Regions from separate parts of the Homo sapiens genome. Here region 2 is linked to region 1. Evidence: fine-mapped expression QTL. Tissue or cell type: whole blood. Region 1 holds a variant in brackets; the other region holds the start of a gene. All regions are shown on one strand. Distances are between the middles of the regions.

Region 1 (8,184 bases):
GCTCCATCCTCATGACCTCATGTAACCTTAACTTCCTAAGGAGAGGCCCACCTCCAAGTACTGCCACAATGGGGGTTAGAGTTCTATCAACATCCGAATTTGGGGGGAACAGCAACAAATGTTCAGTTCACAAGTATAAAATGGATATATTATTTATGTGCATATACATCATATACTGTTACATATCATAGATAAGACATGCATATTATACATATGTGTATGTATATATAGTAAATATACCATCTATAGTAATAAGGTTTCACAAAGAAGAGAAAATGGAAATGTAGAGATATAAAGGAAATCATCTTTGTATTACTAGTCTTTTTATTGCCAAAAAAATTTTATTTGCAAAACAAATATAGGCTCATGGTAAAAATTTTAGCAACTGAGATAGGCAAAACTAAGAAAGATGTAAATCCCACTAGCCAGATACCACTACTCCTAAGACCCAGGTCAGACAGCGAGGCATCACTGTTAAGAGCATGGGCGCTATGGTTGGACAACTCTATCACTTACTAGCTGTGTGTCCTGGACCCAGCTACTTAGTCCCTCACCACCTCTGTTTCTTCATCTATATAATGGGTCAGTAATCCCACCCACATGAAGTTATTGTTAGACTTAAATAAGCTGACCCATGTAAAGTGCTTGGAAATTCCCTGGCACAAAGCAAGTGCTCAATAAATATTATCTGTGACTCTATTATTATCATCATCATGATCATAATTATTACCGCAACTGCCACTAGCATTCCCTTCCAAGGTATTTTCTCAGCCAGCAGCAGCAAATCTGTTTGGGATTGTATGTCAAGCCCTGTGAAAAAGAAGGGTTTGGCACACAGGGCTTCATACAAAGAGGGGTTTTGAAGCTGACCTGGCCATTGCCAAGTCATTACCGTGCTTGTGAGAAGGGGGCAGCGAGCCTGCCACATGTTTGCATGTGGACCCTCACGGTGCTATACACATACCTACCTACTATAAAGATTTACTTCGTATGTGTTGTCATCTTGTCATGCTGTGTTCATCATGGCTTTTAATGTCTACGTAGCATTCCATTATCACTTTTGATCAACAGTTCCCTGATTGATTTTTTATTTTTCTATAGTAAACATTGAAGGAGAAAATATAATTGTCGCTAAATATTTCAGCCAAATAAGTCTGAGCTATGCATTATTCTAAGGCCCTCTCTCAGATCTTCACAATGCAAATCTGAGTATTAAAGGCTCTGAGAATTCTTGCGCAAAGGGGGACCTCATTTGATGTTATTAACCTGGCATTCCCCAGTTTTGGAATGTGCTCCCTATAGCTATTTCTTTAAGCTAAATAATTAGAGGAAGAATTTCTGGGTCAAAGAATATGTACAGTTCCAAGAGATTTTCATTTGTTTCCCTCTAGAATGTTGTTTTAGGAACTGACAAACTTGGAGATACCTCCTTCTGGGCTAAACTGTGACTTTTTAAAATCACAATTCGATGAAAAGTTCAACACACTAAAATATACGGTGGTATTCTTTTAAAAAATTCATACAATTGAACTGGGTACAAAGGATCACCTGGGTTTTTTGTTTGTTTGTTTTTGTTTTGTTTTCGTTTTTTGGTTTGTGGTTTTTTTGAGCTTTTAGATTCAGGGGGTCCATGGGCAGGTTTATTACCTGGGTCTATTGCGTGTTGCTGAAGTTTGGGGTATGAGTGATCCCATCACCCAGACAGTGTGCATAGTACCCGATAGTTTTCAACCCTTACACCCCTTCCATGCTCCCCCTTCTAGTAGTCCCCAATGTCTATTGCTCCCATCTTTGTGTCTGTGTGTACTCAATGTTTAGCTCCCACTTAGAACTGAGAACATGCAGTATTTGGTTTTCTGTCCCTGTGCTAATTCGCTTAGGTTAATGGCCTCCAGCTGCATCCATGTTGCTGCAAAGAACACAATTTCATCCTTTTTCACAGCTGCATAGTATTCCATGGTATACACGCACTGCATTTTCTTTATCCATTCCACCATTGATGAGCACCTGGATTGGTTCCTTGTGCTTGCCATTGTGCATTGTGCTGTGATAAACATACAAGTGCATGTGTCTTTTTGGCAAAACAATTTATCTTCTTTTGGATAAACACCCAGTAGTAGGATTGCTGAGTCAAATGGTAGTTCTGTTCTAAGTTCTTTGAGAAATCTCCAAACTGCTTTGGACAGGGGCTGAACTGATTTACATTCGCACCAACAGTGTATAAGAGTTCCCTTTTCTCTGTAACCTGGGCAGCATCTGTCATTTTTTGACTTTTTAATAATAGCTATTCTGACTGGTGTGAGATGGTATCTCATTGTGGTTTTGATTTGCATTTCTCTGAGGATTAGTGACGTGGAGCATTTCTTCATATGTTTGTTGACCGCACGTATGTGTTCTTTTGCAAAGTGTCTGTTCATGTCTTTGACCATTTTGTAATGGGGTAGTTGTTTGCTTGTTGAGTTGTTAAAGTTACTTATAGATTCTGGATATTAGACCTTTGTTGGAAGCATAATTTGTGAATATTTCTTTCCATTCTATAGGTTGTCTGTTTATTCTGTTGATAGTTTCTTTGCCAATTTTTGTTTTTGGTGCAATTGCTTTTGGGGACTTTGTCATAAATTCTTTGCCAAGGTCAATGTGCAGAATGCTATTTCCTAGGTTTTTTCCAGCTGGATTCTTTTCTCGTCTTCTGGCAAGTCAGTTTAGAAGAGGTTGATTTATTCAGAAAGTATCCATTTTCTTTTTCTAGACTTCAGACAGGAAAATGTAAAATGAGCAAAATTCTCGTGTATAAACTAGCTCAAAGGTTTGTGGAAGATTTAAATGCTGCATGACAGGTAGCAGGTAGTCGATAAATGCCAGTTGTGAATATTGCTTTTCAGATTAAATAACAAGGCTGAAAGTAAATGTTTTGGACAGGCTAGCTATTCTTCATACATCCAACCTAAAGGTAATCATCCTGGTTTATTTATTTATTCAAAAAATATTGAAAAATTCACACTGTGAGCCGGGTCCTAACTAGCCCTGAGGATAGCAGTGAACAAGACAGTGTGGAGTTTCCATTCTAGTGGGAAGACCGGCAATGAACAAGCCAATGAATGTCTGATCACACAACCGGTGTGATTACAGCTTACAGCTCTTTCCCATGGGAGAGTCAACAGCTTAATGGGATGGAGAGTAACTGGAGAAGGCCACCTTAGATGGGCTGGTTAGGAGGGAGATGATGTGTGATCTGAAGAGTGATAATGAACCAGCCAAGGGGAGAGGTGAGGGGGAGAAACCAACAGCTAATGCAAAGGCTGGGACGATGGGAGAGCCTGGCTAGCTTTGGACTGGGGAACAGGGTGAGTTGATGGTGGGAGGTGAGCAGTGATCAGTCCCCAAAGCCACAAAGGTTTTGAAGCCTGAAAGGGACATGACGTACATTTTTTAAATCTCACTCTCCTGTTCTGTGAGCAACAGAATAGAGGACCCGGAAACTGTAGTAGGGTTCTGTTTCTACACTAGTGCTAATGTAGAACCTCCTACATCCAGAAAGATGATAGCAGAGCTGAGCCACATTCTTCCTGGCAACTGATGTTCCCACACGTAGAAACAGCTGGCATCCTCATACAGAGGGAGGCTTGCAGGCCCAGGATACATCTCATCCCCCTTGCTAATCTCAGTACTTGACACCCCTGACCTCACCAGGGGCACCAAACCCAACTGCTTCCTGCAGGGATTCAGCTGCACTTGTCATCACAGAGCCTTGAAATCCCTGGGGATATCAACTCCTTGGAATTCCAGGCTGCTCTTCCACTTGCTTCTGACACATTGACTTTTCTGCCCATTCACTCACCCATCTTTAACCAAGGCCTGTATGGCCAGACATGAGGCCACTCACTGCCTACATGAAGAGGGAAAGACAAAGTGTATCCCTGGGAGCTCGCTACCTTGTGTGAAAATTACAACATCAGATAGTAAATGCCTTGGTGAAGATACGCATCCCAAGGGCAGGAAGCTCCCCACCTTGATCACTGCAAACTCCCCAGTCCCTAACAGAATACTGGGAAGATAGAAGGTGGTCAAAGCGTATGTATGGAATGAACACTGGAAATCA[G/A]TACACAGGGCTGGGAATGTGTGATTCTGAGCACTCAGTGATGGAAATAACCCTCCAGCTCCTTCACAGAACAGCCAGCAGCATCACCTGTTTTGGTGATGGTGCCTCCGGATGATGATCCGTGAGCGCACACTGGACTCGTGCTCCTGGGTGAGCTCTCTCCTTGTGAAACCCAGATGCTTCTGTCTCCCAGGGACCCTGCAGCCCTCCCGGTAACCTGGCCTCCATCACGAATGCAGTCTCTATAGACGGTTGTCTATTAGGATGCCACTGGAGAGGGAGGTCCCGTCATCACCTAAGCTAAGCACAGCTGCCTCTAAGTACCTCCTTGCTTGGCAGCCGGCCAGACCACATTCACTGAGCTTCAAGTCATAATGCGAGGCTCAGCCATCTATCTCACTGTGGTCCCCGCTGCAGCTGGCTTCATTTATTGACTTCTTGAAAGTGGCAATATCCATGCTCAGCTTGGTCTGAGCTGGACTCAGAGACCCAGGTGCCAGAGCAAAGGCCATGGTGTGTCGGTTAATCACCCAATAAAAATAAACTCTGAGAACAAATACAGAGGGGTGATTAACTTTCCCATTCTGGTCTTCTGACATCCCAGTTTGCTCTCCCAGTGAGCGTGTTTCTTTGAGATAAACCACCCTGGGAAACTGATCACCTGTCCAGACACCACCATGCCTTGGCGTAAGTGGACAAAAGTGGAACGTGACCTGCAAGCAGCGCAGCCTGAGACTTAGGCAGAGAGCCCCCTGCCCCAGGTTCCATGCTGCTGAGGGCCTTATCAGAAACTCTGAAGCAGAGCACCAGACTATTTTATTCTGCTTTTTGCTCTTGTAATAAAGTGTTATTAGTGTTTAGTCACCAGATTAAACCCCAAAGCCTTACCTCCCCTCCTGTGACCATCCATGTACTCCAAATCATGAACCAAAAAACAGGGACCACCAACAGCCCTTACCAAAAGAAGACTGGAAGCACAAAAAAGCAACTTACCATGAATCAATTTAAAGTGAAGACCAAAGTGTGACTCAAAACTGAAAAAATATATGTATTTGGTTAAGATGTAATTGTTACCGAAGCACCAGGGGTTTGGTCTGGGTCCTGCTGTTCACTGCACAGAAAGCCAATCACTGAGACAAGACAAAAGCCAGGGAAGAAGGCTTTAATCGGGTGCTGCTGCAGCCAAGGAAATGGGAGGTCAGTCTCAAATCCATCTCTGAAATGAGGGGTTGATGCACCAGAGAGGAAATGTAACCGTGTTTGGGAAAACATGGATGAAATTGGAAATCATCATTCTCAGTAAACTATCGCAAGGACAAAAAACCAAACACCGCATGTTCTCACTCATAGATGGGAATTGAACAATGAGAACACATGGACACAGGAAGGGGAACATCACACTCTGGGGACTGTTGTGGGGTGGGGGAAGGGGGGAGGGATAGCATTAGGAGATATACCTAATGCTAAATGACGAGTTAATGGGTGCAGCACACCAGCATGGCACATGTATACATATGTAACTAACCTGCACATTGTGCACATGTACCTTAAAACTTAAAGTATAATAATAATAATAATAATAATAATAAAAACAGGGATTAAAGCGGGGCAAGGAAGAGAAGTTGGTCAGTAGGAAGCAGGTGGTCCTTTAGGCAATCCTGATGGATGAGGGGTCTGGCTCCTCATTATCCAGAGGCAGTGGTCTGGTAAGTTTCAGCTCCTTGATTTTATCTGGGAGACCTGATGGTTGGCTTCTTGAGAAAGGAACTCAGATAAGACAATTGTAACTTTCTCAAGTTTTAAAGTCTGGAAGGAACAATTTCTGTGGTTATTCAAAAAAAAAAAAACATAAGCGTCAGTTCTGTGGGACAATTTGATCACTTTATTTTGGAGAAAAAAATGATGAATAGAAGTTTGTTTATAAGTTTAACCCCAATAATAGGCTAGTCTCACAGTGAACACAGATGAACCAAGAATTGCTTTGCTTTTGACATAATTTTTACAACATCCCACGGCAGTACATGCCAAACTTCACCTTGTGCTCAGCTTATGCCCTGCATTTATAAAGAGATTGTCTTTCCTAACCATTCGAGGGCTTTGTCCATTTCCCAAAGGACCTCTCCCCAGTCCTTTGCCAGTCAAATCACTCTTTCGAAGCAGTTGTAAATCCACTGTCCTTTCTCTTCTTCAATCATTGATTCCCTTCTCTCCATTGCGTTTTCACTTGTCATGGATTTACTTATGATTCCTTTTTTTCTTCTTGTATTGCTTTACTTGTAATTAGCAAATAATAATTGTATATATTTATGAGGCATAATGTGATGGTTTGGTCTTTGTATACATAGAAACTTTGATCAACATCTCCCCCTTCTTCAGCCCTCTCCCTGCTGCCATGAATTTGACTCTTTTAGATTCCACAGATACATGAAATAATAAAGTATGTGTCTTTCTGGGCTTGGCTTATTTCACTTAGCGTAATTCTTATACTCTGAGTATCCTCGTAGAACCCTACATCTTTTGTGAGATTGACAGTCATACTTTGTGCTGGACTGGTGCATCTTTGGGATGGTTTTGTCACTGGGCGATAACTCATGAGGTCTGCTGACCAGGTAGATACCAGGAGTAAGCAGGATATTTGGCTGCAAGAGAGAATTATAGGCCTGGTCGGGAGTTCATTCAGGATGTTGTAAATGGAATACTGGGGTGATGAGCAGTCCTTGTGGGTCTTGTTCATATTTGTATATATTCAGGCCTAGGAATGCAGGGAAAAAAGGGATAAAACACACTGAATGAAAAGAGTGTGAACAAATGGATGAAGAGCCTCACACCAAGTAAAGCTTACGTTGCTACCAACTGGTACCAAACTCCAAGTCGTCCTGTTCTTTTCCAAGCGCCATTTCTGCTGCTTAGAAAAAGCCACCCAATCTGGATACATGGATGTAGCAAATTTAACCTTAGACCTAGATTACCTATAGGATCAGACTTGATCAGTCATTAATAATGATAATGAAAATTAATCATGAAAGCTATCTTGTGGTTGCACCTTAAAGCATCTGTGTAATGCTTTTACCCATACTAAGAGTGTTCAATCCCTGTTTTCACCTAGGATTGATAAGTGTATTTCTGGATTTCAGAAATCGGATAGCTTCTGAAGTCTCAGCCTGTTAATATGGTAACTAAATATGTTAAGGTCCTAGTCTCTCAATGTTTAATTACTGTTTAATTTTTTATTTCCTAATTTACTCAATGTGTATGATATTGTTAAATTTGTGGCTTTATACCCTGAATCTCTTTGTCTGTATTTCTCTGTATTGCTTGGCAGTCAATTTGGTCAAAAGCAACAACGAAATGACCCTTACGAAGTGTCAAATGTCCCTTTATATGAGATATAAATGTCTTTGCAAAGACACTTATAAAGTTGTGAAGACGTTGTTTCCTTACTCTAATAGCTGCTGTATTCACGTAGGTTTCAAAAATGGGGTGGGGGAGGGCAGTGGCAGTGAGCGCCTAGCGGAAACTATGTCAATCACCCCTGGAAATAAATCTGCAAAATGGACTAGCAAGCCCTGACTAGGAAGAGCCCGGCCACAGCAAAATCTTATTGCAGGCACAAAAAGGTCCTATTGCAGCAGTTGGGAGACCTTTGGTAAATTCTAACAAAGAATTAATGGCCTCGAACAAGACGCCCGGTATGACCTTTGCCAGAAGAAACTAGGAGCAGACTTGCTTGCCTGGAACAGGTGGTGAGGAGGTTTTCAGAGAAGATGTGTGCAGTCCCTGGCAAGTAGCTGGTGCCCAGGAAATGTCAGTTCCATTGTTTGCCAGGGAAGGCTCGGTGCACGTGGGGCTCACACACAAAGGAAGAGGTTAGAGAGTCCGCAGAAAAGGGTGGGAGCTCAAAACAGTGGTTCTTAGGCGTTTGTCTGCAGGCACGCTGGTAATTCATGCTGACCATGCCCACAATCAGTGGCACCTAGCTGTGGCCCCACCCCTTTCCTGCCCACTATTGAAAGTGACTACATGGCAAAGAGCGCCTATTTCCTAGACTAAATCATTCTCAGACTTAAGTTATTAGTGAGCGCTGT
Region 2 (8,184 bases), 75 kb after region 1:
TAGAAGGAAGGGGCACCCTTCACTGACCCTGCTGTGGCACCGCCCATCAGGTGAAGGTTGCTCAGCAGCAGCATGAGGCAACCTGGGAGGAAAGCAAACCAGGGGAGCAGCTGCTGGGCCCCAGGGCTGGGCCTACAGAGCTGACGCAGGTGCAACTAGGCAAAGAACATTCCAGTTCCTCCAAGGCCCCGCTAGGATCATTCCATCGCTGCTCACACAAGGCAAACGCACAAAGCACCTCATTGCATGTGGTCACATGGACAGACCAACACCTTCCATAGTGTATTTTATTATTACTGTTTTTTGAGACAGAGTCACAATCTGTTGCCCAGGATGGAGTGCAGGGGATAGATCTCGGCTCACTGCAACCTCTGCCTCCCCAGGTCAAGCGATTCTCCTGGCTCAGCCTCCTGAATAGTTGGGATTACAGGTGCACGCCACCTAGCCCAGCTAATTTTTGTATTTTTAGTAGAGATGGGGTTTCGCCACACTGGCGAGGCTGGTCTTGAACTCCTGGTCTCAAGTGATCTGCCTGCCTCAGCCTCCCAAAGTGCTGGGATTACAGGCATGAGCCACCATGCCCAGCCACCTATCATAGTACAGATCCAAGAAAGGAGGCATGTCAAAAGAATGGCCCAGAGAACCAAAAAGCAATTATAAAAGTACCATAATAAGCGCACGTAAAACAAAACTGTCTTGAATGGAAAAAGGGAGTTACAACATGCAATTAATCTAGGAAGAGCTTTAAAAAAAAAATGCCAAGAGGAGGTAAGACAACTATGACACTTAAATAAAGGTTAAAAATGAGAGTTGTTCAAAACCGAAGTTTAAAGGTTAATTACTGGTGCCTTACACGTAATACATTAGTTTTGTTAATGGGACAATATTCAGTTAGGTTCGGTGTGTCAGCCCCACAAGGTGAGTATGTCAGCCATGAGTATAAATTAGTGAAGCTTCCGTGAAAAGCAGCCCTTTAACAGACCTTGGTCTCCACACAGAGAAAGCATACTGCCTGTCTGTTTAAGTGCAAAAAATAAAGGAACAAATAATGCCTCCACTAAAAGAGTATCAAGTTTGTTTGTTGTTCATGTAAAGCAAATTTCCAATTGGAATTTGAAAAAAAAAAACCACAAGTGTCTTACCAGAAAAGGAAAGAAAAACTCCAGATTCTCGTGCTAATTCATGTTCCTGAGTTGCCCACAGCCATAAGACAGGTTTGCTCAGAGATCCAGGGTGCAGGCACCCAGCTTTCTTTGCTGAGTGTGGGAGTCCCAGGGATTGGGGTCTAAAGTCAGAAGCCTGAGGGCTTTCTTCACCTTGGCTATTCACTAGTTTTTAAGGAGTTCTGAAGTTTTATGAAAAGTCTTTTACGATTAGCTGGGCATGGTGGTGCTCACCTGTAATCCCAGCTACTCAGGAGGCTGAGGCAGGAGAATCGCTTGAACCGGGGAGGCGGAGGTTGCAGTGAGTCGACATGGTGCCACTGCACTCCAGCCTAGGCAACACAGCAAGACTCCATCTCAAAAAAAAAAAAAAAAAAAAAAAAGTCTTTTAAGAAAACTGAGATACTGGCATCTAGTAGGTAGAAGTCAGAGATGCTGCCCAACGTCCTACAATATACAGGGTGCCCCCTCCACCACCAACAATAAAGAACGACTTGACTCAAATGCCAGTATTGCAGCTCTTGAGAAACTCTGCTCTAAGCTCAAAAAACTCAGAGAATTCTAGAATGGTGAGAAAAAAGGAGAAGATGCAGAGTCAGGAAGTCCTGCGTCTCTTACTTCCTTAATTTGATGACCTTGTTCCAGTTTCTTAACGCCTCTGCATCTGTTTTCTCAAAAATGTAAAATTATGATAATTATATCACAGGGTCTTCTGAGGATTAACTTAAAACACTGAGATATTTTTATTTCAAGTAGTCGGGTAAAGCACTAGCCAAATACCAGTTGACAACAGCCAATTACAAAAAAGTTGTGTATACTTACACAGAAAGGAAGATCTCTCTATAGGAAAGGATGAGGTGTGAAGGGTGAGGGGCAAAGGTGTGAGTGAGGGGGAAGGGGTGGTAAAGGGAGTTGAAGTCTCATGCCTCAAGGCCAACTGGATTCCGGGTTTGTTAGAGACACTGGTGGGTCTGGCAGAGGCGTTTGAACAAGAGCAACTCCATCTCGAATAGGAGCTGGGTAAACTGAGGCTGAGAACTACTGGGCTGCATTCCCAGACAGTTAAAGGATTCTAAGTCACAGGATGGGATAGGAGGTCAGCACAAGGTACAGGTCATAAAGACCTTGCTGATAAAACAGCTTGCGGTAAAGAAGCCGGCCAAAACCCACCAAAACCAAGATGGCAATAAGAGTGAACCCTGCTTGTCTTCATTGCTACACTCCCATTACCGCTATGACAGTTTACAAATGCCATGGCAACGTCAAGAAGTTACGCTATATAGTCTAAAAAGGGGAGGCATGAATCACCCACCCCTGGTTTAGCATATAATCAAGAAATAACTATAAAAATGAGCAACCAGCAGCCCTCAGGGCTCTGTCTATGGAGTAACCATTCTTTTATTCCTTCATTTTCTTAAACTTGCTTTCACTTTACAGACTCGCCCTGAATTCTTTCTTGCATGAGATCCAAGAACCCCCTCTCTTGGGGTCTGGATCAGGACCCTTTCCCGTAACAGCTCTAACACCTTACAGCCTCTCCCTAGCTAAAGTCAAACTGGAGCTGACCCCTCACATAGCACAGTCCTTAAATGAGATGTGTGAAAGTTTCCAGAACATGCCAGGCCCGCAGTCAAGGACTCTCCTATCCCCTTGCCATGAGACCCAATCCTAAAGACCACCTGTGGGGTTGGAACTTGAGGTTCCAAATCAGCAGTGCCCACCTCCTTCAACACCCAAACCCACAGTCTAACCCTGATGCCGGAAGCCTTCCCCACTCAACAGCAGGCATTGCGTGGAGTGAAAGAAGCCAGGCATGATGGACAGCTTCCTGTCTGAATCCCCTCATATGAACCTGACGGGCACAATGAACCTACTGGGCTAAACTCCAGACGCTGGCCACCTTCATAGGGTGGAGATGACAGAACAGGACAGGAGCCATGGGGCTCCCGGGGCGGGTAGGGGTGGGTCATGTTCCTTGGCTTGGGGGCAGTTACAAGGGTACAGTGGGGCTTGTTGAAGGGCAAAAGTTCTGTAAGTTCGTCCCGACAGGCCAAAGAAACCCCAGAGCCGTCTTTCGACTGACTACAGCCTGGAAGAGAGGCCAAGACCACTCCCTGCCTCTATTGCTCCATTTCTGAGTTGGTCTCACTTTCCACCCCACTGACGGCGCGCTGCGTGAGGGGCGGGGCATAGAGGGAGGGGAGGGGCTATGCGAAAGAAGGCGGGGAGAGTGGGGTGGGGCCGCTCCTTGGAACGGAAGCGCGCGGCCTCGAGGCCCTTCCGGTGCGGGAGAAACTACTACTCCCATAATGCCCCGCGGTCCCGCGAGCTGCCAGTCTCGTCGCGAGAAGCAGCGGCCCGGGGCGACTGAGCGGACAAACGGAAGTGTAGGTTACGGTCTGAGACATCACCGCCAAGCTGGGCATCGGGGAGATGGCCGAGACTGACCCCAAGACCGTGCAGGACCTCACCTCGGTGGTAAGGGACGGCTGTGAGGGCCGGAGGCCGCGGCCTTCCCGGGCGGCGCCGGGCCAAGCCCTGCTGGACAGAGGCGCGCCCACCGCGGCCGCGCGTGGCGTCTGCCGAGGCCCCGTTTCTGGAAGCGTCTCTGGCCGAGGCTCCCGGCCACCTTGACCCCCGGGGCGCTCGGTGCGGGCCAGTCTCCCCGCGGGCGCCCCCAAGCCCGACCCCTTCCAGTAGCCCCATTCATCTGTCGCGAACGCCCTCCGGGTCCCTCCCGCCTACCTCTGACACCCTCCCCGCCCTTCAACTCCTCACACACCCCCGGGTGCCCCAGCCCGGCAGAAACAACCTAAAGACCCTGAGCTTTGAGTCGCAGCGGCCTCCCCAGCCCAGCAGTCTAATTGGACAGGTTGGAAAACGGAAGCCCAGAGAAGGAAGATCTTGCTGAAGGCCGCACAGCTGTCCAGAGGCAGAAATGGGGCTGGAACCCCGGGACCAGGGCTTGCGTCCTGATCCCAGGAAGTTGTCTCAGGATCGATGTGGACCGTGTTTGTTTGTTTCGGTTTTTCTTAGGTGCAGACACTCCTGCAGCAGATGCAAGATAAATTTCAGACCATGTCTGACCAGATCATTGGGAGAAATATCCTTTTTATCTGCAGTCGGCCTCCTGTGGGCCTTTGGAGCCTATTTGCCGGGCAGTGGTGGGGATAAATGAGTAGTTTTCAGGCTAGCTTCAGCCATTCACTTGTAGAATTTGAGCTTGGATTGTACTGTGTTTCTGAGAAGGACTGCGCCGAGAGCTAGGGGCAAAGCTGAGTTAGACTCCTGGCTCAAGGAGCATACGTCTACCAATCCTAATAGCTGGTGTGGTGGACCATGCACTGTGAACTAAGCGCTTTTGTGTGTGTCTTTTGATGCTCAGCATGACCTTATGAGTGGGTTGTAGTGTTATCATCTTTAGCAAATGAATAAATTGAGGTTTAGGGGTTCCATCACTAGTAAGGGTCAGGGCTGGAATCCGATGCGGGGTAGCCATGCCCCACAGTCCTGTACTCTTACCCACCAGCGTGTAACAGTGTCGAAAGAAAATTGGAAGACCAGTTTCCCTAAAGTCGTTGTGTTTAAGGCTGTAGTCTGCAGGGACGGGAGGAAAAAGGCTCAATGAGATGTTGGCACGCGTTGTCTTTAACTTCAGCACTTGATGATATGAGTAGTCGCATTGATGATCTGGAAAAGAATATCGCGGACCTCATGACACAGGCTGGGGTGGAAGAACTGGAAAGTGAAAACAAGATACCTGCCACGCAAAAGAGTTGAAGGTGAGGAAGGGGGCAATTTTTTTTTTCTTTTCTTTTCTTTTTTTTTTTTTTTTTTTTTTTGACACGGAGTTTTGCTCTTGTTGCCCAGGCTGGAGTGCAATGGCACGATCTCGGCTCCCTGCAACCTTTGCCCTCCTGGGTTCAAACGATTGTCCTGCCTCAGCCTCCCGAGTAGCTGGGATTACAGGCTTGTGCCACCACACCCAGCCAATTTTGTATTTTTAGTAGAGACGGGGTTTCTCCATGTTGGTCATGCTGGTCTCGAATTCTGACCTTGAGTGATTTGCCCGCCTCAGCCTCTCAAAGTGCTGGGATTACAGGTGTGAGCCGCCGTGCCCGGTCTTTTTTTTTATTTTGTCTTAAAAGAATAGAGAGAACCTGTAAGTATAATTTGTATGTAGTCAGACATTCTGTAGATCAGTTCCCAGCCATGATCCCAGCAAGCATCACTGTATTGTTTACCTGCTGTGGACTTGATGTTTTGAAATTTTTCATGCCAAACTCATTCTTTACACCGAATTTATTTTCCCAGTTTTTATTAATTAGACTTCTGTCACTATTAGTGAAGACCACTGGCTAACATTAGATAACCACTGAGTTTTTATCATTCCAGCTAATAATTAAGGTGTCTTTTTGTTGGCCTATAAAGCCTGTCACTGGAAGATTTTCCATTGCTTTTTTTTTTTTTTATGGAAATAACTGATAAGTCACCCACATTACCACCTTCTTAAATGGCTTAAATTCTGGAGACTTTCTTGGTAACTTGACATAGGTGAACTAGATTGTGGCCACATTAAGCTTTTACCCTGGAGTTCATTTAAATTTCCTCTGAATAGTTTCAGATGTCAGAGGAAAGCCTAGTAATTCAAAGTACCTACACAGCAAGATAGGTAAATGTACAGAATCACTCAGCAGAGTGCATGGTGATCCTTTTCCTCTGTATGTGTGAAAAATAAGTTTTAGACTCACTTTTCTCTTGTTTCATTTATAACATTTTAATTCTCTATAAAAATGAATGTTGCTGAGGGAGGCGGAGGTTGCAGTCGAGGTCACGCCACTGCACTCCAGCCTGGGCGACAGAGTGAGACTCTGTCTCAAAAAAAAAAAAAAAAAAAAAAAGGTACTGGTGCGTGGTGACTCATGCCTGTAATCCCAGCACTTTGGGAGGCAAAGGCAGGCAGAGGGCAGATCAGTTGATGTGAGGAGCTCGAGACCAACCTGGCCAACATGGTGAAACCCTGTCTGTACAAAAATTAGCTGGGTGTGGTGGTGCACGCCTGTAATCCCAGCTACTTGGCAGACTGAGACAGGAGGCAGAGTTTGCAGTGAGTCGTGATGATGCCACTGCACTCCAGCCTGGGAGACAGAGCAAGACTCTGTCTCAAAAAAATAAAATAAAATGGTTCCTGAGTATTTTTAGATTCGTAGAGTACTAAGCAGAATGTACAGTAAAACATGCCTAATTTCCTATTTTCTGGGCTTGCTGTGGACCACATTTTAAGTCACTGTGAAATACAGATTTGGGATGTTGAAGACAGACTCTAAAATTTGCTTTTATCTTCACAGTAGGTGGGGTTCATTCACTGTGTGAGTAAATCACATAACTGCTTTCTATGGGTTATGTCATCGTTATTCTTATCCAGAGATAATTTGGAAAAATGTCCTACCAGTCTCAGATGCTTCTGTGGGTCTCTTTTTATATTATGTGGCAATCAAAACTGCCATCAACTGACTGATTATCTTACCACAAGAATTTCAGGATGGTAGACTGGCTAGTGATGGGGGTCATTCAAAGAAAAGAGTGGGAGTAGGAAACTGACTCTGAAACTTTTAAAGATATTTCCAGTTAAATCTATTGCTAAAATATTGCCAGAAGAAAATAAGTTTAACTCAGTAGGAGAGTGGAAAGGGATTTGTAGTTGATAGGTCTATATGTCATTTTTACTTGTGCTCATATAATGAAAAACATGTTGATGATTTTTCCTTCTTCAACAGGTTGCTAATAATTTATACTGGAATCTGGCATTTTTCCAAGCCAAGAGAAGATCGAATGGCTTTTTGCAGCTAACTACTATGTGTAGACAGGTTTTATATTATAAAGTATGCATTCTTATCACCTAGTATATAGTTAGTTTGTAGAGTGATTTCCCCCCAGTTTCTTGAACATGGTATCTTCACATCTTGGACCTTGGTCAGTTGTGCTATTCATTATTAAACACTAAAACTTTGGCGGTTCTTGCATAACATTGTCAGATTTTTTAGTGTATTTCTGTGAAGTCATTTTTTTTCTTGTCATTCCTTTTGTAGTAGTTGCTGTTTGGATAAAAGTTGATGTGTGATTTTTTATTAAACAAATAGTAAACCCTTCAATTATAGTTAGTCTTGGTGAAGTAAGATGTTTGTAGACTTTAGAGTTCTTTAATTCTTGGCACAACGTGACTGTTGAGCTAACACCAAATAGTGTGTTGGCAATACTTTTCAAATGGCTGAAAACACCTAAAAATTGTTCATTCAGAAATATCTGTCACTGCTCTGTTGCCAAAACTCAGAATAGAACTTAGACGTATGTCTGAGTCCCTGAGATCACATGCTAAAGTCGATGAAAAGTAACCACTGCCACTGTCTTGTGTCAGAACTTTTACAGTACAGAAAATAACAGAATAGCCTTCTGTAATGAGGCGTTTGTTAGAGTTTTGCATGAGATTCTAATACTTCAGTAGGACCCTACCTACGTGGTTCATCTACAATGGTTACCATAAAAAATCTGGCAGGATTTTAAAACTCAATCAGTCTTTCCTTTGAGCTAGTGACTTGAAAAGAAAGAGAGAAGGAAAAGAGACCATATTAAGTCCATGCCAGTTGCTTGGCTAGAATATGATCAACGACTTGTAGTAGACTCAAGTTTTTAAAAAACACTATTTTACTTAAACTGTTTCTTATCTAAATTCTTGCAGAGTGTCAATGTTATCATTGATTATAGAAGACAGGGATAATACCTTTATCTCTGGCCACTCAAAAATGCAGTGCCAGGAGTGCTAAACCTAGAGGCCAATACTGATGACCTGGAAGGTGATCCATATGATTGTCACCACAAAGTGCTTTTACACAAAAACTTGAAAATTTGAAAAACATGATTTTTTTAAGTTTCTCATCTCACCAGTCTTGGTGTTTATATTGCAAATCTATCAAAGTAAGAAATAATTTGTGCTGTATACAAATTACATGGGGAACATAAAGGA

The links. PIP is the estimated chance that this variant, and not a neighbour inherited with it, causes the effect.
Region 2: it holds the start of HSBP1, and the variant in region 1 is fine-mapped to the expression of HSBP1 in whole blood (INTERVAL, PIP above 0.99).

The regions. Positions count from the first base shown.
Region 1 is chr16:83,729,068-83,737,251 of GRCh38, forward strand. All of the region lies in intron 10 of CDH13 (cadherin 13), which reads left to right. The region is part of intron 1 of CEDORA (CDH13 antisense oligodendrocyte and neuron associated lncRNA); the gene reads right to left. Among named protein-coding and RNA genes, the nearest start is that of CEDORA, 40 kb to the right of the region's middle. The variant G/A (reference allele first, on the strand shown) is at 4,100.
Region 2 is chr16:83,804,481-83,812,664 of GRCh38, forward strand. It overlaps HSBP1 (heat shock factor binding protein 1), which reads left to right and starts at 3,498. Exons shown (of 4, transcript NM_001537.4): 1 at 3,498-3,641; 2 at 4,200-4,266; 3 at 4,825-4,945; 4 at 6,941-8,184. The coding sequence starts at 3,597. The coding sequence ends at 4,943. RefSeq lists an enhancer at 3,292-3,793 and silencers at 3,451-3,627, 3,645-3,934.